4 linked regions of the Homo sapiens genome follow. The protein of the gene in region 4 purifies or fractionates together with the protein of the main gene of each other region. This does not show direct contact. Each region holds a gene or a part of one and is shown on either strand. Other genes may lie near its edges. The genes, in order: EIF2B3, MCCC1, MCCC2 and ECH1.

The links.
Region 1: the proteins of ECH1 (region 4) and EIF2B3 purify together in Homo sapiens (affinity purification with mass spectrometry; 3 studies listed by BioGRID and IntAct, with this or other methods). This does not show direct contact.
Region 2: the proteins of ECH1 (region 4) and MCCC1 purify together in Homo sapiens (affinity purification with mass spectrometry; 3 studies listed by BioGRID and IntAct, with this or other methods). This does not show direct contact.
Region 3: the proteins of ECH1 (region 4) and MCCC2 purify together in Homo sapiens (affinity purification with mass spectrometry; 4 studies listed by BioGRID and IntAct, with this or other methods). This does not show direct contact.

The regions. Positions count from the first base shown.
Region 1 is NC_000001.11:44,983,587-44,991,121, forward strand, and holds the start of EIF2B3 (translation initiation factor eIF2B subunit gamma), read right to left. Parts: upstream 3,010-7,535; 5' UTR 2,907-3,009; intron 1-2,906. UniProt on the Homo sapiens protein: Acts as a component of the translation initiation factor 2B (eIF2B) complex, which catalyzes the exchange of GDP for GTP on the eukaryotic initiation factor 2 (eIF2) complex gamma subunit.
Region 2 is NC_000003.12:183,033,481-183,040,502, reverse strand, and holds part of MCCC1 (methylcrotonoyl-CoA carboxylase subunit alpha, mitochondrial isoform 1 precursor), read left to right. Parts: intron 1-1,367; coding exon 1,368-1,477; intron 1,478-3,068; coding exon 3,069-3,285; intron 3,286-6,425; coding exon 6,426-6,512; intron 6,513-6,518; exon of another isoform or gene 6,519-7,022.
Region 3 is NC_000005.10:71,646,335-71,653,356, forward strand, and holds part of MCCC2 (methylcrotonoyl-CoA carboxylase beta chain, mitochondrial isoform 1 precursor), read left to right. Parts: intron 1-2,762; coding exon 2,763-2,919; intron 2,920-3,734; coding exon 3,735-3,849; intron 3,850-6,334; coding exon 6,335-6,420; intron 6,421-7,022. UniProt on the Homo sapiens protein: Carboxyltransferase subunit of the 3-methylcrotonyl-CoA carboxylase, an enzyme that catalyzes the conversion of 3-methylcrotonyl-CoA to 3-methylglutaconyl-CoA, a critical step for leucine and isovaleric acid catabolism.
Region 4 is NC_000019.10:38,828,792-38,836,381, reverse strand, and holds the start of ECH1 (delta(3,5)-Delta(2,4)-dienoyl-CoA isomerase, mitochondrial precursor), read left to right. Parts: upstream 1-4,587; 5' UTR 4,588-4,609; coding exon 4,610-4,661; exon of another isoform or gene 4,662-4,686; intron 4,687-4,865; coding exon 4,866-5,073; intron 5,074-5,215; coding exon 5,216-5,304; intron 5,305-7,590. UniProt on the Homo sapiens protein: Isomerization of 3-trans,5-cis-dienoyl-CoA to 2-trans,4-trans-dienoyl-CoA.

The sequences.
Region 1 (7,535 bases), on a different chromosome or scaffold from region 4:
ATGAGCTGGACGTGGTGGCTCACGCCTGTAATCCCAGCACTTTGGGAGGCCCAGGCGGGCGGATCACCTGAGGTCAGGAGTTCAAGAGCAGCCTGGCCAACTTGGTGAAACTCTGTCTCTACTAAAAAAAAATTTTTTTTTTTGAAACAGAGTTCTTGTTCCCCAGGTTGAGTGCAATGGCATGATCTTGGCTCACTGCAACCTCTGCCTCCCAGGTTCAAGCGATTCTCCTGCCTCAGCCTCCCAAGTTGCTGGGATTACAGGCATCCGCCACCATACTTGGCTAATTCTTTGGATTTTTAGTAGAGACAGGGTTTCACCATGTTGGCCAGGCTGGTCTTGAACTCCTAACCTTAGGTGATCCACCTGCCTTGGCCTCCTAAAGTGCTGGGATTTCAGGCATGAGCCACTGCGCCCGGCCTCTACCAAAAACATTTTTAAAAGTAGCCAGGCATGGTGTCAGGCACCCGTAATCCCAGCTACTCAGGTGGCTGAGGCAGGAGAATCACAGGAACCCGGGAGGCAGCAGCTGCAGTGAGCTGAGAGCACACCACTCGCACTTCAGCCTGGGCGACAGAGTGAGACTCCGTCTCAAAAAAAATAAAATAAAATAAAAAAGAGCCAAAAGAGCGCCAGGCACAGTGGCTCATGCTCCCAGCACTTTGGGAGGCCAAGATGAGAGGATCACTTGAGCCTAGGAATTCTAGAACAGCCTGGGCAACATGGTGAGACCCCATCTCTATAAAAAATTAGCCAGGTATGGTGGCGCATGCCTGTAGTCCCAGATACTCGGGAGGCTGAGGTGGGAGAATCACCTGAGCCTGGGAGGTTAAGGCTGCACACCACTGCACTCCAGCCTGGGCAACAGAGTGAGACCCTGTCCCAAAAAAAAAAAGTCAAAAGATGAGTTTGAGTCATGATTCTGACACTCATAGGTGTGATCAGGGGCCTGACATTTAAAACTCTCAGTGTCCTCAGCTTCTAGAAGGAAGCCTGGTGGTTAGGTTCACAGACCATAGAGCTAGAATGCCTAGGTTTGAATTCTAGCTCTACTATTTATTATTAGCTGTGTGAACTAGGGCAAACTACGTAAATTTTCTATGCCTCAATTTTTGCATTTTATGATGGGGATAATTATAGTTTCACTTCACAGAGTTGTTGTTAAGATTAAATTTGTTATTCTACGTAAAGCAGACAAAATAATGTCCATCTTTTTTTTTTTTTTTTTTTTGAGACGGAGTCTCGCTCTGTCGCCCAGGCCGGACTGCGGACTGCAGTGGCGCAATCTCGGCTCACTGCAAGCTCCGCTTCCCGGGTTCACGCCATTCTCCTGCCTCAGCCTCCCGAGTAGCTGGGACTACAGGCACCCGCCACCGCGCCCGGCTAATTTTTTGTATTTTTAGTAGAGACGGGGTTTCACCTTGTTAGCCAGGATGGTCTCGATCTCCTGACCTCATGATCCACCCGCCTCGGCCTCCCAAAGTGCTGGGATTACAGGCGTGAGCCACCGCGCCCGGCCAATAATGTCCATCTTATGAGAAGCACTATATTTGTATTTGCTTTACTAGACAGAGACTAGATTATGGAAAACCTTCGTACTAATTGAGCCATGCTGCTTCATAATTCTGGTCTCTGCACTGCTACTGTTGCTTCCTAGTCTGCCTTTCTCTTGTGTCTAGTAATCACCTATTAAACTTTGAAGACAGCTCAAGAATCCTCTTGCCTACAAAGCCATTCCTAACCGTTCCCACCCCTCCAGAAGTGACTCCTTTTCCCGAAGTGCTTCCATTCTGCCATGTGCAGATTCTCTTAGCCTTTACGGGTTTCATTGCACGTATGTGTTTAAATGTCTACTTAAGTGTAACATTAATGTCTCTTAAATGTCTACATAAGAGTGTAAGAGTGACTTTCTTGGACTGTGTGTGCATCATCACTGTATTCCCAGTCAGATGCCAGAAATCAAAGTGGAATGAGGACCTGTGAACTTCACAACTGTATAAGAGTCAAACTCAAACATGTGCATAAGGGCATTAGAACCCAGGTCACTAGGAACTGAGGTTCCAGCTCTCAAGGAGGCCCTGGGTGAAGAAAGGCAACCTAGGAAGCATGAATAGTAATCATGAACATAACTAATCATGCTACCAGGCAGACTGTCAAATGCTCATGTCACTGCCACGACTATGGCTGACGGGAATCATGGCAACGAGTCTCGCTGCCTCCCAAGCTTTGGAGAGGGTGTTCACCGCATCTCAGACTTGCCTGCATCATAGCACTCATGCCTTTTCCAGTTGTAAATAGATAAGAAAACTGTATCAGAATTGGTCTGTCATTCCACGTGTGCTGCCTGAAGGCAGAGACCTCACTGCTCCTCCCTATATTTCACTGCCCTGCATCCAAACAACTAAAGGCAGGCTGAACAAATGAATGAAGGGCTGAGGCTGAAAGAGTGCAGGCACAGTGCTAAAGGCGTCTGGTACCGGTCTGGTGCTCGCTCACTCGCTGTGACTTTAAGCAGAACCCTCCCCGAAACTTCGTTTCTTTCTTTTCTTTTCTTTTTTTTTTTTTTTTTGAAACGGAGAGTCTCACTATGTTGCCCAGGCTGGAGTGCAGTGGCGCGAATTAGGCTCACTGCAACCTCCACCTCCTGGGTTCAAACGATTCTCCTGCCTCAGACTCTCGAGTAGCTGAGATTAGAAACTTAGTTCCTCCATCTGTTGCATAAGGTGGTTGGCTCGGATTCTCATCCCCAACCTCCCTTCTACTTCGGACACAGCTACACCGGGTCGAGCAGGGAGTCGAGCTGACAACTTCGGGGCTCAGCACCCTCTCCTACCCCTTCGGGTCCACCTCGGCCCAGTTCGACATGCCCGCCTCCCTCAGATGAGTGGCCCCACCGCACTGCTCACCCGGGTCAGCCAGCTTGTGTGCGGCCTGGCAGGGCAGAAGTCACAGCTATAACTCAGCTCCCGGCACGCCGCAACCGCTCCCAGCGATCTCCACGCCGCCTCTGACTGACAGCCCAATGGCGCAGGCGCGCGATGGCCGAGAAACTCGATGGAACGCGCAGAGCAGACCCATGGAGAAGAGAAGACCGCCGAGCGATGGATGACGGAGGGGAAGCACACTCAGCGGAGAGGAGGGAAGGCGGGCCGGAGGGGGCGGGGCCACCGAGGAGCATTCGACACGTGTGTCCCTCTGTCCATTAACACATTACCAACGCCTTTTGAGTATTCCTCCCAGTGCAGGGTGCCGGGAACCCAGACGGAACAACTCAGCCTCTTTCCTCAGGGAGTAAGTCTAAGACCTGGCTTCGAGTACATTCGGTGAAAGAAAGCTCATTGGGAGCCGCAATTTTGGCTAGCTAGTGAAAAAAATCACCGAATGCCCCTGCAGGGGTTGCCAGGACTTCCTATTTGTTTTTGTTGTTGTTGTTGTTGTTGTTTGTTTTTTGTTTTTTTTGAGACGGAGTCTCGCTCTGCGTCGCCCAGGCTGGAGTGCAGTGGCGCGATCTCGGCTCACTGCAAGCTCGGCCTCCCGGGTTCACGCCATTTTCCTCCCTCAGCCTCCCGAGGAGCTGGGACTACAGGCGCCTGCCACCATGCCCGGCTAATTTTTTTGTATTTTTAGTAGAGACGGGGGTTTCACTGTGTTAGCCAGGATGGTCTCGATCTCCTGACCTCGTGATCCGCCCGCCTCGGCCTCCCAAAGTGCTGGGATTACAGGCGTGAGCCACCGCGCCCGGCCCGGGACTTCCTATTTGTAACAGGGCCACTCACGTTAACTTTAGCCATCAAAACTGGGGGCGGCTGGGCATGGTGGCTCATGCCTGTAATCTCCGCAATTTGGGAAGCCGAGGTGGGAGGATTGCTTGAAACCGGGCGTTCAAGACCAGCCTGTGCGAGAGAGCCTCCAGTCTCTACAAAAGTAAAAATTAGCTGGGCATGGTAGTGTGTGCCTGTAGTCCCAGCTGCTCAGGAGGCTGAAACGGGAGGATCGCTTGAGCCCAGGAGTTCGAGGCTGCAGTGAGCTATGATCGGGCCACTGCACTCCTCCTGCCTAGACGACAGAGTGAGACCCTGTTTTTTTTTTTTAATTTAGTTTTTATTTCATAATCATAAACTTAACTCAGCAATCCAGTTAGGCATGGAAAGGAACAAGGAAAACATGGAACCCAAAGGGAACTGCAGCAAGAGCACAAAGATAAGATACTGCGAGCAGGCCGGGCGTGGTGGCTCACGTCTGTAATCCTAGCACTTTGGGAGGCCGAGGCAGGCAGATTGCCTGAGCTCAGGAGTTCAAGATCAGCCTGGGCAACATGGTGAAACCCCGTCTCTACTAAAATACAAAAAAAAAAAAAAAAAGAAAGAAAGAAAGAAAGAAAAAATTAGCCAGGCATGGCGGCGTGCGCCTGTAGTCCCAGCTACTCGGGAGGCTGAGGAAAGAGAATTGCTTGAACCCGGGAAGTGGAGGTTGCAGTGAGCCGAGATCGTGCCACTGCACTTCAGCCTGGGAGAGGGCGACAGGGTGAGACAGCGTCTCAAAAAAAAAAAAAAAAAAAAATACTGCAAGCAAATGGGGTGAAGGGGTGCTCTTCTGAGCTACAAAAGGAATGGTCTGGTGGTTAAGATAAAACAAAAGCCAAACTTGTTAGAGTTGTCCACAGTCAGCAATGGTGATCTTCTTGCTGGTCTTGCCATTCTCGGACCCAAAGTGCCCCATGGCCTCCACAATATTCATGCCTTCTTTCACCTTGCCAAAGACCACAGGATTGCCATCCAGCCACTCAGTCTTGGCAGTGCAGATGAAACACTGGGAACCATTTGTGTTGGGTCCAGCATTTGCCATGGACAAGATGCCAGGATGTGTATGCTTTAGGACGAAGCTCTCGTCATCAAATTTCTCCCCGCAGGTGTACTTGCCACCAGTGCCATTATGGCATGTGAAGTCACCACCCTGACACATAAACCCTGGAATAATTCTGTGAAAGCAGGAACCTTTATAACCAAATCCTTTCTCTACATTGCTCAGAGCACGAAAGTTTTCTGCTGCCTTTGGAACCTTGTCTGCAAACGGCTCGAAGGACACGCGGCCCAAGGGCTTGCCGTCGACAGCGATGTCGAACACGGTGGGGTTAACCATGGCTGATCGTACAGAGCTCCTGGCGTCGGTGGCTGCATTTGCAAAGCCGAGACCCTGCTTTTAACAAAACAATAATAGGCCAGGTGCGGTGGCTCACGCTTGTAATCCCAGAAGTTTAGGAAGTGAGGCGGATGGATCCCTTGGGCCCAGGAGTTCGAGACTAGCCTGGGCAACGTAGTGAAACACCCTCTCTACTAAAAATACAAAAATTAGTCAGGTGTGGTGCCGCGCTGTGGGGTTCCAGCTACTTGGAAGGCTGAGGCAGGAGGATCGCTGGAGCCCAAGAGGCAGAGGTGGCAGTGAGCCAATATGGTATCACTGCACTTCAGCCTGGGTAACAAAGAGACAGGATCTCTAAGTAAATAAAATAAATATTAAAAAATGACGAATAGATAATAAAATAATTGTTGTTCTAAGCTCTACGGTTTGGAGTGGTTTATCAAGTTGCACTAGATAACAGGACCAATGGCCATTCTCTTTTTCCCATGCATTCCTGCAATTTCCTAATCTTTTGAAAGCTTCCTTTTTTTTCGATTAATTAATTTTTTTTTTTTTTTGAGACAGTCTCACTCTGTCACCAGGCTGGAGTTCAGTGGCACAATCTTGGCTCACTGCAACCTCTGCCTCCTGGGTTCAAGTGATTCCTGCGTCAGCCTCCCGAGTAGCTGGGACTACAGGCATGCGCCACCACGCCTGGCTAATTTTTGTATTTTTAGTAGACAAGGGGTTTCATCAGATAGGCCAGGATGGTCTTGAACTCCTGACCTCGTGATCTGTTCGCCTCGACCTCCCAAAGTGCTGGGACACAGCCGTGAGCCACCGTGCCCAGCCTGATTCATCTCTTAAATCTTGAGTTGCTTTAGCTTCCTGCCAGTTAAAAGGTAGAGCATGATTTCTGTAATAAAAATAAAGGAGCTTGACTTCATTCAACAATATTTATTCATTTATTTTTAGAAATGAGGTCAGCTTATGCTGCCCAGGCTGGACTCAAACTCCTGGGCTCAACGATCGTCTTGCCTCAGCTTCCCAAGTAGCTAGGACTACAGGTATGTGCCATGGAGGACTGGCTTCAACAATATCTTGAGTGCCTAATATGTGCCAAGCAGTGTCTTAGATGCTTGGTGTTGCAGATACAGCAGTTAATGATTAGGACTTGTCATTTTTTCCAGAAGGAGGTCTGCTTAGACCCTGAAAAAAAAAGGGGGGGACTCATATCCTAAAACCAGCCTATCTTTGCCTTGCCATGAACTGACTGATCTGGCCACAGGAGGCCTGAAGTCTGACTACCCCTCTATAGAAACACAGAGATATTCTCTCTTTGGTATTACCTCAACCAAGACTTGGAAATTACAGCATGGGTTTGAGGTAAGAACTAATTATAAGTAAGAAGAGCAGTCAGCCCCATATCTGCCATCCATTTCAAATCCTTATGTTTAAACTAGCAAATGTTTTTCAACGAACTAGAGGGTTTTCTCTTCTATTGTGGAAAGTAGTTGAGAGATTGCTTCAGTTTAAACTCACTTTAAATTATTCCCTGAGGGCAACAATTCTCAAACTTTTTCATCTCTAGACTCTTCATACTTAAAAATTACTGAGGACCCCAGAAAGCTTTTGTTTATATGGATTATATTTATCAATATTTACCATATCGAAAAAAAATTATTTTTTTGACACGGAGTTTTGCTCTTGTTGCCCAGGCTGGAGTGCAATGGCACGATCTCAGCTCACTGCAACCTCTGCCTCCCGGGTTCAAGCGATTCTCCTGCCTCAGCCTCCCAAGTAGCTGGAATTTACAGGCATGCGCCACCACACCCAGCTGATTTTGTATTTATAGTAGAGACGGGGTTTCTCCATGTTGGTCAGGCTAGTCTCAAACTCCTGACCTCAGGTGATCCGCCCGCCTTGACCTCCCAAAGTGCTGGGATTACAGGCATGAGCCATTGTGCCTGGCCAACTACATTTTCAAAACAAAAAGTTTAGTGAGATGAATGCCATTGTTTCACCTTTTTGAATAGTCTCTTTAGGGTCTGGCTTAATAGAAAACAGCTTGATTTTTCCATTATTGTAATATATTATTTTGGTTTAATTATATCATAAAAATGTGACTTCACATAGATACATAGTTGGTAAGAGATAGAGCTTTTAATAGCCTTTTCAGATAATTATAGGTATTCTTTGACACTATACCAAAATTCAATAAGTGGTAGTTTGTTAAAGGTTTGTTGCAATGTAGAATCGGAAATTATATCAATGAACATTTTGTACCTTGTTACAGTACTTGCACTTTGAATGGACATTTTACCCATGCATGACCTTGCAACTTGGTATACAAATAATATGTAAAATATTCGTTCACAGAGTTATGCAGATCTTCCTAACATTGACTCATTATACAA
Region 2 (7,022 bases), on a different chromosome or scaffold from region 4:
CTGGCCTCAAGTGATCTGCCCACCTTGGCCTTTCAAGGTGCTGGGATTACAGGGGTGAGCCACCGTGCCTGGCCAGGACAAGTTTTTAAGAGGATGTCTGGAATGGATTTAGATAGGTAGATTTAAACAGCATAATGAAGAGTGAAGAAAAGAGAAAAAGGTATGTTTGAAGAATAGTAAGAAAATATATGACTGGAGACATGGGTTGAAGGCAAATCCTAGTGTCCTAAAAGCCAAAATGAGGATTTAGATCTTCTTAAAAATAAATTGGCAGCATTTTGAGAGCTCTGGATAAGCCACAGCAAGATTTGGTAGTTAGTAGACTTTTTAACTTAGCAAAGCATCTTAACTCTGCTTGCCCCACCGGTTCCTTCCTTTTTTTTTTTTTTTTTTTTTTTTTTTTTCTGAGATGGAGTTTCACTCTTGTTGCCCAGGCTGGAGTGCAATGGCACGATTTTGGCTCACTGCAACCTCCACTTCCCAGGTTCAAATGATTCTCCTTCCTCAGCCTCCTGAGTAGCTGGAATTACAGGCACCCGCCACCACGCCCGGCTAATTTTTTGTATTTTTAGTAGAGACAGGGTTTCACTATGTTGGCCAGGCTGGTCTTGAACTCCTGACTTTGTGATCTGCCCACCTCGGCCTCCCAAAGTCTTGGGAGTACAGGCGTGAGCCACCTGTAGGCACCTCTAATCTTATCAACGAGGACTCTGGGGTTCAAAGAGGTCAAGTGACCTGCCAAAATCCTGGAAAGACCCTGCAACAACGTTCTTTTCAACACACCACATCCTTTCTACTTGAACCATTTCTAACCAGTGGAATGTGCCCTGGTTCAGATTCTTGTTCTCTAGGACTGTAACCATCCCAGTGATGATAGCTGCCATTGGTTTATCAGTTTTGCCAGGTATGGCACTTGTCACTTTATTGTCACTCCTCCCAGCAACCCTGCAGGACAGAGGAATTATTAAACTTGCTTGACTAGTACGGAAACTGAAAGAGTGGAGGGGAGGGGAATGCTAAGGGCAGAAATGAGGGGAATGTGAGAGGGTGGAGGGAGATTGTGTTGACTTTGAAAATGAGAAGGGAAAAGAAGATTCAGAAGAAGATAGGACAGGGAAAGCCAGCTTGTGTGCCATTGAATCACCACGTTAGGGCCTGGTGCTGTTGGGTGGCCCACCTCGTTACACCTGGTGAGTTTTCAAAGCCCTCTGAACCTCAGGGTCCTCATGAATAAATTTGTGTTGTTATTTATCATGCAGGGGTTTATGAGGATTAAGCGTGAAATGTACATAACAAAATGTCTTGCTCGTTGTATTTTATTCCTTCGTGTTTTGACTTGAAGAGGTTACCGTGGTTTTCAATTTCAGGAGACGAAGTTTCCGTGCATTATGACCCCATGATTGCGAAGCTGGTCGTGTGGGCAGCAGATCGCCAGGCGGCATTGACAAAACTGAGGTACAGCCTTCGTCAGTACAATGTGAGTGATCTGAGACCGTGCCAGTGACCTTGATGTGTTTGGTCAGCACCAGAGGTCAGCCTTTGTCTTTGGCAGGGCCTTGGTCTCGTCAGCATATTTTCTATTTCCATCAATTGCCCAAACAAAATAGTTTCACATGGGAGAATTTTGCGTGGGCCAGAACAGGGTTTGAGGACTTCTTCATTTCAGTTACAAAAGAAAGATTGCAGAAGTAAAATTGTTAGTGTCAGTGCTATGCTTCGGTGAAATCCTATTCACTCTGTAGATAAGGCCAGCTATACATGGTACCTTCGTAGGTTTTTTATTTTTCCTAAGAGCTGTCCACAGTAGAAAATACTTAGGAAATAAAAGCAGATGTTTTCCTGAATGTTGTTTTCGCTACCCAGTATGCCTGCAGTCCAGTAGTTTTTCTCTAAAGTAAAATAATTATGTTCAGTTTCATCCCTTTAATAGAGTTTGTTATTTTTCTGTAGAACATTAATTTCCTTGGTGCAGAAAGTCCCATACCACATTGATTTGGCTCATAGAAGGATTTATTAACCCAGTTATTCAACTTGTTATTGTTAATAATTGATCAAAGCTCTGGTCTCTGTGGCTCCAACCACACTGGCCGCCTCACCGCTTCTGAGACTCACTCAGCATGGAGCCATGCATTCCTGTCCAATCTTCCAGAATGTTCTTCCCCCACATGATTGCAGGGCTCCCTCCTGACTACCCTGCTCTCCTGCTCTGAGCCCTTTCCCAGGCTGCCCCATTTAAAGTATGACCTTTTGTTATTCTTTATCCTCTTAGCCAGCCTTCATTTTCTTCATAGCATGTAACATTATATTCAATACCTGTTTACAGATATTGTTACTTGTTGCCCTAGAATGTAAGCAGAGACTGTGAAGGCAGGGACATCATATGTTTTGTTCCTCACTATGTCCCCAGTGCCTGGATCAGAGCCTGGCACTTAAGAGATGCTCAGGAAATGGCTGTTAAATGAATGAAGGAATGGATGAGTGAATGAATGAACCCAAAGCTCAGATAGCTGGTTTTACTTTTGATCCCATTTATTGGTGTATTTGGGTTAATTTTATACCTTTTAAAATTTTTGTATCGGTATATAAAATTTGGATTTTATTGTTGGAAAGAAGCTCTTTTGAGGGCATTTAATCCTATCCTCTCCCCAGTATAGCAATCCAGCTTGCTGTTTGCAGTCTTCCTATTCTGTGGAAGTGTTCTGAGCAGCAAGTCTTCGATACCTTGCAAATGAATTTCATTTATGTTTCTTAACATTTATTATGTTCCTAACCTGAGTCAAGTAAGTGCCTCGGTATTTCCAGCATCCTCTTTGTCATATTAAAATGTAATTTTTAGTGTCAAGTCCAGATGGATATAGTAATAGCGGATGGACATAGTGATAGTGAGATGGTTTTTTTGTGTTTTTTTTCCTGAGAATTGTCCTGTTGCCACATGGTACCTTAGTAGGTTTTTTATTTTTCCTAAGAGTTGTTCACAGTAGAAAATACTTAGATAAAAAGAGCAGATGGTTTTCTGAACATATTGTTTTCCCCACTCAGCAGGAACTGGGGGTTTATTCTCTTCCTAGATTGTTGGACTGCACACCAACATTGACTTCTTACTCAACCTGTCTGGCCACCCAGAGTTTGAAGCTGGGAACGTGCACACTGATTTCATCCCTCAACACCACAAACAGTTGTTGCTCAGTCGGAAGGCTGCAGCCAAAGAGTCTTTATGCCAGGCAGCCCTGGGTCTCATCCTCAAGGAGAAAGCCATGACCGACACTTTCACTCTTCAGGCACATGGTATGGAAGGCTTTTCTCTTTCCTCTGCTTGTCAAGTTTTGCAAATCATCATTGAACATGCTTTTCTTTCTGTATGGCACACTGACCTCTCTTTTCTCCTCTCAGTGACTGACACCATTCTTTTCAGATGTGTTTTTTAGTATGAAGGAAAGCTCTTCACTTACCATGGATGCACCCATAAACACTATTTAACCCATTAACTGGAGTGTAACTAATCACCTAACATTGTAGAAATGGATCTCTTTGGCCAGGCGCGGTGGCTCACGTCTGTAATCCCAGCACTTTGGGAGGCCAGGGCGGCTGGATCATGAGGTCAGGAGATCAAGACCATCCTGGCTAACACGGTGAAACCCCATCTCTACTAAAAATACAAAAAATTAGCTGGGCGTGGTGGCACGTGCCTGTGATCCCAGCACTTTAGAAGGCCAGGGTGGGCGGATCATGATGTCAGGAGATCAAGACCATCCTGGCTAACATGGTGAAACCCTGTCTCTACTAAAAATACAAAAAATAAGCTGGGTGTGGTGGCACGCACCTGTAGTCCCAGCTACTCGGGAGGCTGAGACAAGAGAATCGCTTGAACCCGGGAGGCGGAGGTTGCAGTGAACCGAGATCGCGCCACTGCACTCCAGCCTGGACAACAGGGCGAGAGTTCATCTAAAAAAAAAAAAAAAAAAAAAGGAAATGGATCTCTTTTCAGTCAAACACTTGTTCTCCCCACATCCTACACTAATTTCTTATCACTTCTTTTGTTCGCCACTCCTCATAGCCCTACTTTGTTTTGTCCTCTGTACCTGCAGCAACTCCCTTTGTCCCAGAGTCTCAAGACAATCTAAGACTGGAGACTTAGATTCCCCAGGGTTACCCATGACTTATTGTCGAATTACTTCCGCTTTTTCCATCCTGTGATTGAATGTCTACCTAGAGACTTCATAGTGTCATAGAATCCAAGCATAGGAAGGGCCATAGTGGGGTTCATCCTGGCTACCACACATATGCATTGCATCCCTACCCCAGCACACCCACTAAGCTGTTGCCCAACTTCTTCCTAACACCTTGGGAAACTGGAAGTTCATTACCTCATCAGGTAGCTTACAGTTTCAGTCAGTTCTCCATTAGAAAGTTCTGCCTTTAAACCAAACACCGCATGTTCTCACTCATAGGTGGGAATTGAACAATGAGATCACTTGGACACAGGGTGGGGAACATCACACACCGGGGCCTGTCGTGGGGTGGGGGGAGGGGGGAGGGATAGCATTAGGAGATATACCTAATGTAAATGACGAGTTAATAGGTGCAGCACACCAACATGACACATGTATACATATGTAACAAACCTGCACCTTGTGCACATGTACCCTAGAACTTAAAGTATTAAAAAAAAAAAGTTCTGCCCTTTAAATTGATACAAAATCTCAGCTCTCACATACTTTTTGCATTTCAGGCTAGCTCTGACTTTCGGAGCAAACAGAATTTTTAAAAATCTGATCTATTTTTCTCTTTTATTGGTAATTATTATATTACCCTATACAGTTTGAGCATCCCAAATCCCCAAATCCAAAATGCTCCAGAATCGGAAGCTTTTTCAGCACTAACATGATGCTCAAAGGAAATGCTCATTGGAACAGTTCAGATTCCAGATACTTGGATCAGGGATGCTAAGCCAGTTAAATATAATGCAAATAATCCAAAATCCAAAAAAAAAAAAAAAAATCTGAAATTCAAAACACTTCTGGTCCCAAGCATTTTGGGTAAGTGATACTGAACCCGTATTATTATAGGATCCTATCATTAGAATCTTTAATTTCTGAATTCATTTAGATTCATTCAAGATAGCTGTATGGAAAGCTTAAAATGTAAAATGTTTTAAGTCCCGAAAACTGCATCTTTAGAAGATTTGTGCTCTATCCTCATTTTATCCTTTTACATTGAATGAAAATGCATCTAAATACGTCCCATGTGGTATTCCTGAGCCTGACCTTAACGTTTTTAGAATGGAACGTTGTCTTACTGTGACCTTCCTTTTGAAAGTTTATAATTGGTACAGATATGAGGTTCAGAATAAATTGCATCAGCTTAGCTATGCTGAAGCTCCTGGATATTGTCCAATAGAGGATATACACCCAAATGCCTATAAGGGGCCAGGCGCGGTGGCTCATGCCTGTAATCCCAACACTTTGAGAGGCCCAGGGCGGGTGGATCACTTAAGGTCAGGAGTTTGAGACCAGCCTGGCCAACATGGTGAAACCCCATCTCCACTAAAAATAGAAAAGTTAGCCAGCTGTGGTGGCACCCACCTGTAATCCCAGCTACTCTGGAGGCTGAGGCAGGAGAATCACTTGAACCCAGGAGGTGGAGGTTGCAGTGAGCCAAGATCATGCCACTGCACTCCATCCTGGGCGACAGAACGAGACTCGTCTCAAAAAAGAAAAAAAAAAAAGGCCTATAAGGGCTGGGCCAACAACATAAAAACATAAAAGAGTAAAAGAGGCCAGGTGAAAGAAAAATAGTGAATAGTAGAGACTGGTGACCTGGAATGAATTTGCCCCATCAAAAGGTGGTGACTGTGGTACAGTTTATGCCACTATGGGATTAGAGTTTAGATTGCAAATATTCAGATTCTTCAATAGAAGCTAGAATTTTTCACATGAAATTTCATAAGATGTAAACAAAACCAGCCCTTTAAACTTAACAAGAAGAACAAAAAAAGCACATCTGAGCTGCCAGTTTAGGACGTGTGTTTTTTTGTTTTTTTTTTTTTTTGAGACGGAGTCTTGCTCTGTCGCCCAGGCTGGATCCGGTGCAGTGGCGCAATCTTGGCTCACTGCAAGCTCCACCTCCCGGATTCACGCCATTCTCCTGCCTCAGCCTCCAGAGTAGCTGGGACTAGAGGCGCCCGTCACCATGCCCAGCTAATTTTTTTGTATTTTTAGTAGAGACGGGGTTTCACCGTGTTAGCTAGGATGGTCTCGATCTCCTGACCTCATGATCCGCCCGCCTTGGCCTCCCAAAGTGCTGGGATTACAGGCATGAGCCACTGTGCCCGGCCAGCACTTGCATTTTATGTTTTCTTTTGTAAGGTGTAAATTTCATAGGCTTGATACTCATAAGTTTGTTACTGAATTTTAAATTTTTTCTAGATCAATTCTCTCCATTTTCGTCTAGCAGTGGAAGAAGACTGAATATCTCGTATACCAGAAACATGACTCTTAAAGATGGTAAAAACAGTAAGTAATGTTTCATTAAAAGAGAAATGTGAGTCATAGAAATGTATCACATTAATCTGAAAAAGAGGATTCCAGCCTGGCCATGATCAGTCAGTTACATTTTTTAAATGCCTAGGCTAAACATTGGAGGGAAATATGCCAATATAATAGAATTGATTGGCTCTGGGTAGTAGAGTTGATGGTATTTGCTTTTCTTCTTTACACTTTTTAAAAATTTTGTAAATATTCTAAAAATATGTCATAAAATAAACATAGCAAAACAGCTGAAATGAAATATGCCAGAATGTTAGAAATATGCCCAAAAAAACCTCTTTTTCCCCAATTCTTTGTACTTTTTTTTTTGCTTTGCAATTTTTCTGCAGCGAGAATGTATTACTTTTAAATAAGAAAAACAGTTTTCAAAACTATGTCAGAGAGGGACGATTACCCACTGCCCATGCAGTGTTTCAGGGGTTTCAGGTGGAAGTGGGTCACTGCAGAGCTGTAATTTATTAAGTGCCTTATCTGATG
Region 3 (7,022 bases), on a different chromosome or scaffold from region 4:
TGGCTCATGTATTGGACAGCACACATGTAGACCACTTCATCAGAGCAGGAAGTTCTACTGGACATGCTCTTTCTGGAGGCCCTTTAAGAGTTAGCACTTTTCTTCATGCATGTTAAATATTCTGAGGAGATTATCCATATTTTCTTTCCCCCAAGTAGCTGGGCCTACAGGCATGTGCCACCATGCCTGGTTAATTTTTGTATTTTTGTAAGACGTAGTTTCACCCAGACCATGTTGCCCAGACTGGCCTCAAACTCCTGAGCTCAAGCAATCTGCCCGCCTTGTTCTCCCAAAGTGCTGATACTACAGACATGAGCCACGAGCCACCACACCTTGCTGATTATCCATATTTTCTAAGTGAAGCTATTTCTGAGTTATGTACCTGATCAGCATTCACATGGCCACCCTTTACTCCTGTGTGTGCACAGCCACACACCCAGAAAGCAGCAGGAGCATGATCTGATCACTGCAGAGAGCATCATGCTTTTCCTAGGACCCTTTTCCTCCTCAAGATTTCAGGCACGTGCTACGGTCTTCCCTTTTATTGTACAGTTAATTCAACTTAAGTAACATCATTTTAAAATGTATGTGTATACCCTGAACCAAAGTCTGGGGATTTGAGTTTTGGCCCCAAAGAATGGTATGACCAAAGTGAGATATGTCACCTCTCTGGACTTTACTCCAGAGATGACCTTAACATGGTGGATAAATTGATTTTTAAGGTCTGTTACGGTTGAAGAGTGAATTCTCTGATTCTCTGGTATCCTTCATTATATGTTGCAGAGTGTCTGAGATATACAGGGCACTCAGATATGTTGGTTAGCAGAAAACAGCCTCCCCCATCCCAGGCTACCTCAGCTTCAAAGGAAGGAGAGGCTCTTAGTACTTGTTGGGATCATGCAAGCCTCTTTGAGAAGGAAGAGTCAGGCTCTTGGCAGTCAACAGGGCTTGAAATAGTACTGGTGCTAAAGCATCTTCATCCTGTGAGCTACTTAGGTTCATGATATTTGGTTAGATGAATGTTGAGAGAAGTTATATCCAAATGGCAGCCTAAGAGGGTCCTGCATGGTAACTTATGTAAAAGGGCAGATAGAAAGGATTCTGAAGCCTAACTATACCAGAGTTCTTGTTTTTAATAATGATTCCTGGATTGTTAACCACCAGGCAGTTAAAACTCTGTGGTTTGAAGATATCTACATTTTTGTTTTGTTTTGTTTTGGCCCTGTTGGGTTGAGTTTAGTTTTTCAGCATTGCATTTGAGGTTCCTGTGGGATATTCACCTGGAGGCATATAGTGGGCAGGTGAATAAGTCTCAGCACAGGAGAGGTGTTTTAGGTAGAGATGCAAATGTAGACATCATCAGAATATGGAGGTAATTTTAAAGCTGTGGGAATAGATAAGAACCCCCCTGAGAGAAGAGAAGAAGGTTCAGTGACAGTCTTCGAGTACCTCTGATTTTTTCCTTTTTCTTCAAGAGTAAAGGAAGATGGGGAGCATGATTATGCAGTTTTCTTAAGATTGGAAGAAGAAGGATTTGAGAAAGCGAAGTGAGATGCCTCACTCTTCTTTTTGAAGGCAGGATCCCCTCCAGAGAATAGAGGGATGGTGGGTCGGGTTGGGTGGGGTGAGAACTTGAAGACAGCTGATATTTGAAGTAGGTATGGTGGGAATGTTACAATGGAGTCAAGGCTGGGGAGATTGAGGAGTTTCTGAGCTTTTCTGAGGGTCCAGCTGAGTAGGATAGCTGCAGGAAGCAGATGGTGCCAAGTAAAGGGCTGTGCTGCCATTCCTGTGGTGACTGCAGAAGGCACACGTGCTCTGGAGGAACTGGTTGGGTTGAATTGGATGACCAGATACTGGAGTTTGGCAAACCAGGGATAGTGGCAGTCAATGAGGCAGGTGAGTCTGCAGGCCCACAGATGGAAGAAATGCCTTTGCTGGAGACTTGCGGGGTAAGGAGACAAGCGAAGCCCAACTCAGTGTTATAAGGCAGAGAAAGAGGAACCCAAGTTCTGGAAGGCAGTGAAGTTGCAGAGCAGCCTCCACAGAGCTAGGGGCTTGAAGAAATAGAAGGATCCTCTATTGAAATGGAAAAATAGTTTTTTTTTAACCTTGCTATTGAGTCACTGGCAGGGACTGTTAGCATCTCTATGAAACATTCATCTTTATGTCTTCAAAGTTTCAAAGCATCACTTTAGAAAGAACAGTCTGTTTTAAAACCAGGTCAGTGAAAGCTAAAGCCCTCATAGTTAGGCTCATCACAGCACTTTGTCCTTAACTAGCCATGTCACATTCTTTTCAGCATCAAGCTGCTTCTTTGACATCATCTCCTTTTTAAAATTTTTATTTATTTATTTTTAAATAGAGGTAGGGTCTCGCTTTGTTGCCCAGGCTGGTCTCAAACACCTGGCCTCAACTGATCCTCCCGCTTAGGCTTCCCAAATTGTTGGTATTATGGGGGTGAGTCACTGCACCCAGCCAAGATCATCTCTTGAAGATAGATTGCATCCTCATATTGTTTGAAGGTTTCTGTGTGCATCCAGATGAACTGCTTTAAGAAAATTTAGAAAGTGATTAGAGAAAATTTTATTTTATCCTTTTAAAGCAAACTTTTTAACGGTATGTTTCACATATAAACATTTTCTTAAGGCGAGAGGCATTTAGTAAGATGAGTTTAGTAAAACAAGATGTCCTTTTGGTGGAATTGCGTTCCGCATATTAATCCCATCACCCAGAGGCTCTCTTTCTGATCTTTCTCTCAGGATTTATGGTTGGTAGAGAGTATGAAGCTGAAGGAATTGCCAAGGATGGTGCCAAGATGGTGGCCGCTGTGGCCTGTGCCCAAGTGCCTAAGATAACCCTCATCATTGGGGGCTCCTATGGAGCCGGAAACTATGGGATGTGTGGCAGAGCATATAGGTAGGTGTCATGATTTTCTCTGAAACAAAGAAACATGCTTCAAGTATAAAATACATGGTCAGTTTATTTCAGGTGTATTTGAAATATAGAATGCCATTCCCAGATCTCAATCAATTATACCGTAATTTGTATCATTTGGAGGGGTGAAATGAAATTTAATGCCAAAGGTGTTATTTGGAAGAAATCTACAATGGGAGTCAAGAAATACTTGAAATGGCTGATAATGAAAATGCCACACATTAAGATTTGTGCAGTGCAGCTAAAGTCTGGCTCTGAGAAAGGTATGTAGCCTTAAAGGCATATACGGGAAAAGAAGCAAGACTGCAAGTCAGTGAGCTAAGCCTTCATCTGTGGGAAGTTCAAAGAACAGCACGTTAAACCCGTGACAAATAGAAAGGACATAATGAAGAGCAGACATCAGATAGAAGAATCAGTATAGCCCAAAGTTGTTTGGTTTGAAAGTTCAACAAACTTGATAATCTTATGCTTAAACTAAAAAATAAAGAGAGACAGCACATATAACCACTATCAGGAATGGAAAAAAGGACATGACTGTAGATCATGAGAGGATATTATGAACGCTTTTATACCCAGAATTACATGGAGAACTTAGAAGTCCCATCTGTGCTCAGGACCCTCCTCTGGAGTCTAGTCTGGGGTGTGTTCCAGGCATTTGTATATTTGTGAAAGCTCTACAGATGATTGTAATGTGCAGCCAGAATCAGGAACCACTAATTTAAAAGGCAAACATGGGCCTCTGAAAATCTATGTTGTATATTGACTTAATTTGTTTATTCTTCCTTTTCTTCCCCCAGCCCAAGATTTCTCTACATTTGGCCAAATGCTCGTATCTCAGTGATGGGAGGAGAGCAGGCAGCCAATGTGTTGGCCACGATAACAAAGGACCAAAGAGCCCGGGAAGGAAAGCAGGTCGGTGTCGTTTTCTCTTGTTTCTCTCTGGTTTTGCCTCTCACCATAAACACCCTGGAGCCAAGGAGCAGCGTGCCTGGAAGCCCTTGGTGTTCATGGCTGGGGACCTGGCGCACACTGCCTGGCCATATTTAGACTGTGCTGCCCTGGAAGTTGTTCCAGCAAATCACATGATTTCTGTCCTTTATCTTTTTAAAGCCATTTCATTTGGGGTACTTTCTTTGTGGCCATTTAAAATTGTTTCAGAATTTCCAAGAAAACACTTTTTTATTTTATTTTTATTTATTTTTAAAATTTTTGAGACAGAGTCTCGCTCTGTCACCCAGGCTGGAGTGGAGTGCCGCAATCTCGGTTCACTGCAGCCTCCACCTCCTGGGTTCAAGCAATTCTCATGCCTCAGCTTCCTGAGAAGCTGGGATTACAGGTGTGTGCCACCACGCCAGGCTAATTTTTGTATTTTTATTTATTTATTTATTTATTTTTGAGACAGAGTCTCGCTTTGTCGCCCAGGCTGGTGTGCAGTGGCACGATCTCGGCTCACTGCAAGCTCCGCCTCCCAGGTTCACGCCATTCTTCTGCCTCAGCCTCCCGAGTAGCTGGGACTACAGGTGCCCATTACCATGCCTGGCTAATTTTTTTGTATTTTTAGTAGAGATGGGGTTTCACTGTGTTAGCCAGGATGGTCTCGATCTCCTGCCCTTGTGATCCACTCGCCTTGGCCTCCCAAAGTGCTGGGATTATAGGCTTGAGCCACCGCGCCCGGCCTAATTTTTGTATTTTTAGTAGAGACAGGGTTTCACTATGTTGGCCAGGCTGCTCTCAAACTCCTGACCTCAAGTGATCTGCCCACCTCCCAAAGTGCTGGGATTACAGGTGTGTGCCACCATGCCCAGCCAAGAAAACACTTTAGAAACTGACAGTAAGTATCTGAGGCATAAAGATGTTTGATTCTTAGTCATTTGTACTTAGTGAGATTTAAATAAGTCTGATGTACTACTTTGATTTTATGACCAAAAGCAGCAGAATTTTGTTCTTTCTATTTTACTTTTAGATTGTTGTTAAGGATACCCTGAGTGGGAGGGCTCCGTCATCTATTGAGAATTGAATAACATTATCCTGTGTATAAATGAAGAAAAATGGAAAGGGCAGTGGAAACTTGATGAAAGGCAGATCAGCAAGCGGCTGCTTTTAAAATGAATTCTTTTGTTTGTGTCTCTGTTGGAGATTGTTTGAAATTTTGCATTAATTTTTATTAGTTACAACTTTTAACTCCTGTGTAAGCACCAAGTATGAAGATGATGGTTGTGTGTTCCTGAAGTTGCTTAGGTACACTGTTGTCTCATTATGGGAAGGGATGGAATGGAGGGAGCCCTGTCTGCTCTGTGCAGGAATCATCAGGTCTTCCACCTAGATTGTGGAGTGAGGTACTGCCTCCCTGAATGCATCCATCCATGCCTCACATCCCTAGTTGTCTTTTCCAAGCACTCGGAACTCTGGAGACTTACATTGAGGTTTCAGATTCACTTTAGTACCTACTAGTATCAAAGGAAACAGATAGCTTTGCTTTTGTGCGAGTGGTTGGGGTGTGGGTGTGTGGGTGGGGGAGGTGAGATATGAAATTCTACCTGATACTTCAAAGACATGTCTGAAACTCTATGAAGCCTAGCATGGTGATCTCTTATTAAGTAGTTGTTCTTTGATTACTTCAATATACAGATACTTGAATTCATTCATTTTTATACAGGAAAGGAAAGCACAGTGTGTTAATGGTTCTCCCTCAGAATTCGTGACCTAGAAAATGATATTAAGGTATTAGCATATTTACGTAAAAGAAGGTAGAGTTTATTTGAAATAAGTCTTTGTTTCTGCTGTCGAGTTGCTTTTTGAGTTGAAAGTATTTTTCAGGGTTTCAAATTAAGTTCTGAAGATTTTTACATCTGAATTAATTATCACTTGATCCTTGTAATACTGATGGGAAGGCTGTGAAATTCTTAATTAGGGGAAAATATCTCTCAGTTCTCTGGGAACTTGACTGAAAAGGTTATTCAAGATTTGGTTGGTATTTTACCCCTTTAAGCTTAAACATTTAAGCTTAAGTTTTAAATTTTGGCTATTTTAAATGAGAATCTCATACTTTTCCACATTCTTAACTGGAGGTTGCTAAGTGTAATGCAGCCCTTTTGTTGGGTTGTATAATTCACATCTATTATTGTACCTTGCTGTGATACACAGTACCCTGGGCTTTCACCTTACGTGAAATAGCCTCAGGATATTGTCTCTGTTAGGAGAGATGGGATGGGGCACTAACTTGATACTCATGTCTTAGCGTGTATGTTAATGATCACTTGTAATTTATACATCACTATGCACATGTTAGATGTAACATTATTATTCATGACATCTGTTGTTTCTTTTGAATTGAGATGATCTAAACAGGGCCAGTTGTTCACTGAAGCTGACTTACTCATGGCCTCTTTTCCTTTAGTTCTCCAGTGCTGATGAAGCGGCTTTAAAAGAGCCCATCATTAAGAAGTTTGAAGAGGAAGGAAACCCTTACTATTCCAGCGCAAGGTGGGGGCCAGAACATCACTAACTCTCTGATGGGTGCAGATGGCAGTCAGAGGAACAGCTTTACAGAGCTCTGTGTAGTTGAGATGGTCCAGCATTCATAGGAACTGGAAAATAACATTTGGACACACTTAATTTTGTACTGTTGTTTCTTTACAATCTGAATGGCTACTGCTGAAATGCCACCCCTCCTCCCAGCATCCCTGCACTGTGGACTCACCACCAGTGGTCTGATTCTCGCTTCCCTTGTCTTCCCCCTAGTTGAGGTGTCTGGGGCCTGGAGGGGTCCTGCAGCCCAAGGTGGGCCATGTTAGGAGCCGAGAATAAGTTATAAGCTTGGCTGTGTTACTTCAGAAGTTCTAATTTTTGCTTAAAAACCCCTCTCCTTGATCATTTTGTTTTTACCCCATTTTAAACATGAGATTGGTTGAACACTTACTGGCATTTGTTGACAAGTATGCTTGTACGTTTGAAAGGTGATTAGTCACTGCCAGGGTCTGTGTGTCGGCGCCAAATAATTACCTCACAGACCATTGCCGCTGTTGGCTCGGTTTTTTTCTTACACCACTTAATGAGGTAATAAATTATCATGCCTGTCCCAGCTG
Region 4 (7,590 bases):
GGGATTCCAGGATGTCTGCTTTTCTCCCTCTCTGTCCTGAAGACACAGGCAGGCCTGAGCACAGTCACAGGCCCTCTGGAGGCATACAGAGACCCAAGAGGAGCAGGGTGGGCTGCAGACTGAGAATGGTGCTAGCAATTGAGTCTTTGAGGAAAATCCATCAGGCTTAGTGGCATTCTTACTGGGCCCTGCCCGAGCAAGCTCTATCAGGCCCAGTGGGTCATCACACCTATAATTCCAGCAATCTGGGGAGGCCAAGGTGGGGCACATACTTTGAGCTCAGGAGTTGAAGACCAGCCTGGGCAGCATGGTGAAACGTCACTACAAAAAGGTGGGTTTGGTGGAACACCTGTAGTCCCAGCTACTCGGGAGGCTGAGGCAGGTGGGTCAGTTGAGCCTAGGAGGTTAACAGTGCAGTGATCACATCACTGCACTCCAACCTGGGTGACAATGAGACCCTATCTCAAAAAAAAAAAGGTTTCCAGCCTTGCCATCATGGTGAAACCCTGTCTCTACTAAAAATACAAAAATCAGCCGGGCATAGTGGCGCATGCCAGTAGTCCCAGCTACCTAGCAGGCTGAGGTGGATCACCCCAACCCTGGAGGGTGATGCTGCAGTGAACTGTGATGGGGTCATTGCACCCCAGCCTGGGCAACAGGGTGTCAAAAAAACCCAAAACCTTTGTGTTCTGTATCATTTCAGAGTGACTTGTCTTTACCCTTGCAGTATCATTGTGTGGATGTGTCATGATTTAACCTGGTCCCAAAGGGTAGTTTCCAGGTCTATTTTTGCTATTGCAAACAGCGCTGTAACACGTATCTACACAAGTATCTTGGCCAGCTTCCCTGATACTGATCAGGAGATAAATTCCTGCCAGTGGAATTGCTGGGTTAAAGGATATATATAGCTGGATGTAGTGGCCCATGCCTGTAATCCCAGCACTTTGGGAAGCCAAGGCAGGCAGATCACTTAAGGCCGGGAGTTTTGAGACCTGGGCAACATGGCAAAACCCTGTCTACAAAAAATAAGAAAGTGGGCCGGGCATGGTGGCTCACGCCTGTAATCCCAGCACTTTGGGAGGCCGAGGTGAGCGGAACACTTACGGTCAGGAGTTCGAGACCAGCCTGGCCAACATGGTGAAACCCTGTCTCTACTAAAAAAATAAAAATTAGCCGGGCATGGTGGCACGTTCCTGTAGTCACAGCTACTCAGGAGGCTGAGGCAGGAGAATCGCTGGAACCCAGGAGGCAGAGGTTGCAGTGAGCCGAGATTGTGCCATTGCACTCCAGCCTGAGTGACGAGAGTGAAACTCCGTCTCGAGAAAAAAATATATAGAAAAATGATGTGGGCATGGTGGCACACACTGTGCCTATAGTCCCAGCTACTCATGGGGGCTGAAGCAGGAGGATCACTTGAGCTGTGAGCTGTGATGGCACCACTATACTCCATCCTGGGCGAAAGGGCGAGACCATGTCTCAAAACTTAAAGGATCTATATAATTGCATCATACGGTAGATAGCTTCCCACTTGCAGATGCAAATCTGTGAAGATGCCTTGCGGTGGCGGGTACCACCCGGAAGGATCCTGGTTTAAGGATTTTGACTCCTACTGGAGGGAAGAGGTGACCTGCAGAGGAGCAGGTCACAAACCTTGAAGTTTATGCATGTGTGCTTGAGAATAGCCCACTCTGGGGAATTTACTGTGAATAAAATTTTCTTTTTTGAGATGGAGTCTTGCTCTGTCACCCAGGCTGGAGTGCAATGGCATAATCTTGGCTCACTGCAACCTCTGCCTCCTGGTTCAAGCAATTCTCCTGCCTCAGCCTCCCAAGTAGCTGGGATTACAGGCATGTGCCACCATGCCTGGCTGATTTTTGTATTTTTAGTAGAGATGGGGTTTCACCATATTGGCTAGGCTGGTCTCGAACTCCTGAGATCCACTGGCCTCGGCCTCCCAAAGTAGCTATGATACAGGCATGAGCCACTGCGCCCGGCCTTACATTTTTAACATTTAATGACATCACAAAAGCATCATTTGGCAGATGAACAAGTTTTGCTTCACTATGGGAAGTTTCAAACAATCTTTAGACAAGGAAAAACTACAGTCATCTTGCAGCCATAAATAAAATCAACTAGGGTTTATTGTTTTTAAGCCAGTCAAGGTGATAAAAAGTGAATTTTACCAGTTTGTCTCCTAGCATCCAATTTCATTTCCTGTTACCAGTTTGAGTCTCCTTCCAGAGATATTACATACATACACCATATTCTGTGCAGGTCCAGCTACACTCTTTTTTTTGAGACATTGTCTCACTCTGTCACCCAGGCTGAAGTGCTGGAGTGCAGTGGCATGAGGTCAGCTCACTGCAAACTCTGCCTCCTGGGTTGAAGCAATTCTCCTGCCTCAGCCTCCCAAGTAGCTGGGATTACAGGCACCTGCCACCACGCCCCGCTAATTTTTTTTTTTTTTTAGACAGAGTCTTGCTCTGTGGCCCAGGCTGGAGTGCAGTGGCGTGATCTCACATCAGTGCAAGCTCCGCCTCCTGGGTTCACGCCATTCTCCTGCCTCAGCCTCCCGAATAGCTGGGACTACAGGCGCCCGCCACCACGCCCGGCTAATTTTTGGTATTTTTAGTAGAGATGGGGTTTCACCGTGTTAGCCAGGATGGTCTCGATCTTCTCACCTTGTGATCCACCCGCCTTGGCCTCCCAAAGTGCTGGGATTAGAGGCATGAGCCAACACGCCTGGCTAATTTTTATATTTTTAATAGAGATTGGGTTTCACCATGTTGGCCATGCTGGTCTCAAACTCCTGACCTGAGGTGATCTGCCTGCCTGGGCCTCCTAAAGTGCTGGGATTACAGACCTGAGCCACCGCACCCAGCCCAGCTATACTTTCTTACACCAAAGGAACAAAGGATCATACTAAATGTTCTATTACATCTTCACATTTTTTTCTCACACATTTTTATTTTTGCATAGAGGTTTCAGAGTTTTCTATGGTATAAACAGTCTACTGTTGATGGGTAGTTAATGGTTCTGTCTTTCAAAAGAGCCTGCTTTTCTAGTCTGTGAAAACACACAGGAGACAGGTTCATTAAGGAAAGATACTTCCTTCAATCTCACTGGCCCAGAGACATCTGTTCACCGCCTTGCTCAATGTCTCCCCAAAAAGCATACTTAAGCAGTTTTACAGTACTTTTTTTTTTTATTTTTTTGAGATGGAGTTTCGCTCTGTCCCCAGGCTGGAGTGCAGTGGCGCCATCTCGGCTCCCTGCGAGCTCCGCCTCCGGGGTTCACGCCATTCTCCAGCCTCAGCCTCCCCAGTAGCTGGGGCTACAGACGCCCGCCACCATGCCCGCTAAGTTTTTGTATTTTTTTAGTAGGGACGGGGTTTCACTGTGTTAGCTAGGTCAGGAGGTCGATCTCCTGACCTCGTGATCTGCCCGCCACGGCCTCCCAAAGTGCTGGGATTACAGGCGTGAGCCACCGCGCCCGGCCAGCAGTTTTACAGTACTTTTTATGCCTTTTGGTAGCTGGCTTTTCCCAAGGGAATTTCGGTTTTTTTGTTTTGTTTGTTTTTTTTAAGAACATGAACTTTTTTTTCTTCTTTTTTTTTTTTTTGAGATCTTGCTCTGTCGCCCAGGCTGGGGTACAGTGGTGCCATCTCTGCTCATTGCAACCTCCGCCTCCTGGGCTCAAGCCATTCTCTTCCCGCTAGGATTACAGGTGCCGGACACCGCACCCGGCTAATTTTTGTATTTTTAGTAGAGACGGGGTTTCGCCATGTTGACCAGGCTGCTGTTGAACTCCTGACCTCAGGTGATCCGCCTGCCTCGGCCTCCCAAAGTGCTTGTATTACAGGCGTGAGCCACTGCGCCAGGCTAAGAACATGAACTCTGGTGCCAGGTAATCCTGCTTTAGCCCTTCTGAAGCCCACCGACCTTGAACCTAGTGTCTTCCCGTGCCTGGGCCAGTTTCCTCTGCATATAGTAGGAAATAGTACGACCTCCTGGTGGGAGTTCATATTATACAGTCAGCGCTTAATGTTGGCCCGTCTGTACTCATTCCTTTACCTGAGTAAACTCACAGTACTGCAAGTTTTCTTTTATTTTTAGTTAACATGATATATACATGCATGATTACAAGCTCTGCTGCAATTATGTCCTTGGACATTTCAGCTGTCGCCTATTATTCCACCATTATGAAACAGCTGTGTGATGAACTTTAGCGGGAGCTGTTTGCTTTTCTGTTTTTTTTTTTGTTTGTTTGTTTTGTTTTTTTTAAGACGGAGTGTCGCTCGGTCGCCAGGCTGGAGAGCAATGGCGCGATCTCGGCTCACTGCAAACTCCGCCTCCCAGGTTCACGCCATTGCAGGAGCTATTTTCTTTGGCCAGGTTCCCACTGGGGCAAAGGGTCCATTTCTGAGCCTGGCTCTATGTAAGGCAACCGGAAATCGACTGCCCTTAGTAAAGATGGCGGAAAGAACGGCGTCATTGCCTGTCAGGTTGCGGCATCGGTGCCCTCGCTCAACATGGCGGCCTTCTGTGCCCGCCCCCTCCGCTAACGGGCACGTTACTCCGTCCGAACGCAGTAGACGAAGGCGGCGGCGATGGCGGCGGGGATAGTGGCTTCTCGCAGACTCCGCGACCTACTGACCCGGCGTGAGTCACCTCTTGCCTTATGGGGGTGCGTCGCGCTGTCGTGCTGTTATAGCAGATGTAGGACGGGGAGGGCTATCCGGGGTCACGAAGGGCCCGAGTCCCCTAAATTCAGGGGTGCGTGTGCTCCCTTTTGAAGGACTCCCTAATTCGATAGGCCTGTGTCTTGCAGTCTGGGGTCATCAAAGGCTGTTCCTTTCTCCCCAGGACTGACAGGCTCCAACTACCCGGGACTCAGTATTAGCCTTCGCCTCACTGGCTCCTCTGCACAAGAGGAGGCTTCCGGAGTAGCCCTCGGTGAAGCCCCAGACCACAGCTATGAGTCCCTTCGTGTGACGTCTGCGCAGAAACATGTTCTGCATGTCCAGCTCAACCGGCCCAACAAGAGGAATGCCATGAACAAGGTCTTCTGGAGGTCTGACCTGCAGATCCTGGAGGCCTGCCTGCGGGGGGAGGCGGGGCTGCGGGACTGGGTGAAAGTGGAACGTTGTGGGAAGATGGACATGAGGGCAGGGTATTCCCGCCCCATTTGTAACCCTTCACTCGTTGCTTCACAGAGAGATGGTAGAGTGCTTCAACAAGATTTCGAGAGACGCTGACTGTCGGGCGGTGGTGATCTCTGGTGCAGGAAAAATGTTCACTGCAGGTACCAGACGCTCTTCACACACCCTGCCAGCCTTCCTAGCTCCTGGCAATAGACAGTGGAGCAGTGCTTCTGAATTAGGGTTTTAAGCAGCTTCTGACTTACACACTTTTTTTTTTTTTTTTTGAGACGGGGTCTTGCTCTGTTGCCACGCTGGAGTGCAGTAGCGCAATCTCAGCTCACTGCAACCTCCACCTCCCGGGTTCAAGCAATTCTTCTGTCTGGGACTACAGGCGTGGGCCACCACACCCAGCTAATTTTTGTATTTTTAGTAGAGACGGGGTTTCACCATATTGGCCAGGATGGTCTCCATCTCCTGACGTTATGATCTGCCTGCCTCAGCCTCCCAAAGTGCTGGGATTATAGGCCTGAACCATTGCTCCTGGCCCCTAACTCACACTTTTATCTGTGTGTTTTTTTTTTTTTTTTTGGAGACAATATCTTTCTCTGTCACCCAGGCTGGAGTACAGTTGCCTAATCATAAATCACTGTAACCTCAAATACCTGAGGTCAAGCGATTCTCCCACCTCAGCCTGCCAAAATGCTGGGATTACAGGCAGGTGCCACCATGGCCAGCCCTATCATTTTTTTAAAAAAAGGCCTACTTTAAAACATTCAAATATAAGTATTAGTCTGACAGAACACGATGGGATCATAGGCTCTGAAGTCTAGGTTTCCATCCTGGATCTGTGGCCATGAACAACATGCTTAACCTCTCAGCCTATAGCTGTGTCAGCATATAATATAATAACATGCTTTCGTGCAACTATTCAACTCACTAATTGATTTCCAGTTACAGGTCAGTTGGATCTTTGGATTGACCCACTGACCTTTTCTTCAGATTGGAGAATTTCCACTGGTCACAGTTACTAACTGTTTAGTCATCTCTATCCTTCTGTAAAGCCCATCCAGTGATTTATTTTGTTTTATTTTGTTTCAGACGGAGTTTTGCTTTTGTTGCAATGGTGCAATCTCAACTCACTGCAACCTCTGCTTCCTGGGTTCAAGTGATTCTCCTGCCACAGCCACCCAAGTAGCTGGGGTTACAAGTGCCCGCCACCACGCCCGGCTAATTTTTTGTGTTTCTAGTAGAGACGGAGTTTTACCATGTTGGCCAGGCTGGTCTTAAACTCCTGACCTCAGGTCATCCACCCACCTAGGGCCTCCCAAAGTGCTAGGATGATAGGCGTGAGCCACCGTGCCCAGCTACTACCCACTGATTTTAAATTTCAGATATTGTAGTTTTCTTTCTTTTTTTTTTTTTTCTGAGACAGAGTCGCTCTGTCACCCAGGCTGGAGTGCAGTGGTGCGATCTCGGCTCGCTGCAAGCTCTGCCTCCCGGGTTCAGGCCATTCTTCTGCCTCAGCCTCCCGAGTACTGGGACCACCAGTGCCTGCCACCACACCCAGCTAAGTTTTTGTGTTTTTAGTAGAAACGGGGTTTCACCGTGTTAGCCAGGATGGTCTCGATCTCCTGACCTCGTGATCTGCCCGCCTCGGCCTCCAAAAGTGCTGAGATTACAGGCGTGAGCTACCACGCCCAGCCCAGATATTGTAGTTTTCAATTCTCCAATTTCCATTTGGTTCATATTTTATTTTATTTTATTTATTCATTTATTTTGAGACAGAGTCTCGCTTTGTCACCCAGGCTGGAGTATAGTGATGCAATTTTGGCTCATTGCAACATCTGCCTCCTGGGTTGAAGCAATTCTCCTGCCTCAGCCTCCTGCATAGCTGGGATTACAGATGCCCGCCACCAGGCCTAGCTAATTTTTTTTTTTTTTTTTTTTTTTTTTGGAGAAGGAGTCTCACTCTGTTGACCAGGCTGGAGTACAGTGGTGCAGTCTGGGCTCACTGCAACCTCCACCTCCCAGATTCAAGCCATTCTCCTGCCTGAGCCTCCTGAGTACTTGTGATTACAGGCACCCGGCACCACGCCTGGCTAATTTTTATATTTTTAGTAGAGACGGGGTCTCACCATTTTGGCCAGGCGGGTCTTGAACTCCTGGCCTCCAGTGATCGGCCCCCCTCGGCCTCCCAAAGTGCTGGGATTACAGGCGTGAGCCACTGTGCCTGGTCAGTTGTATATTTTTTGTCATGCATGTTTTTCTTCCTGCCATTGAGCATAGTTATAATGACTGATTTAAAATCCTTGTCTTCTGGCCAGGTGTGGTGGCTCACGCCTGTAATCCCAGCACTTTGGGAGGTCGAGGCAGGCGGATCACGAGGTCAGGAGATCGAGACCATCCTGGCTAACATGGTGAAACCCCATCTCTACTAAAAATAAAAA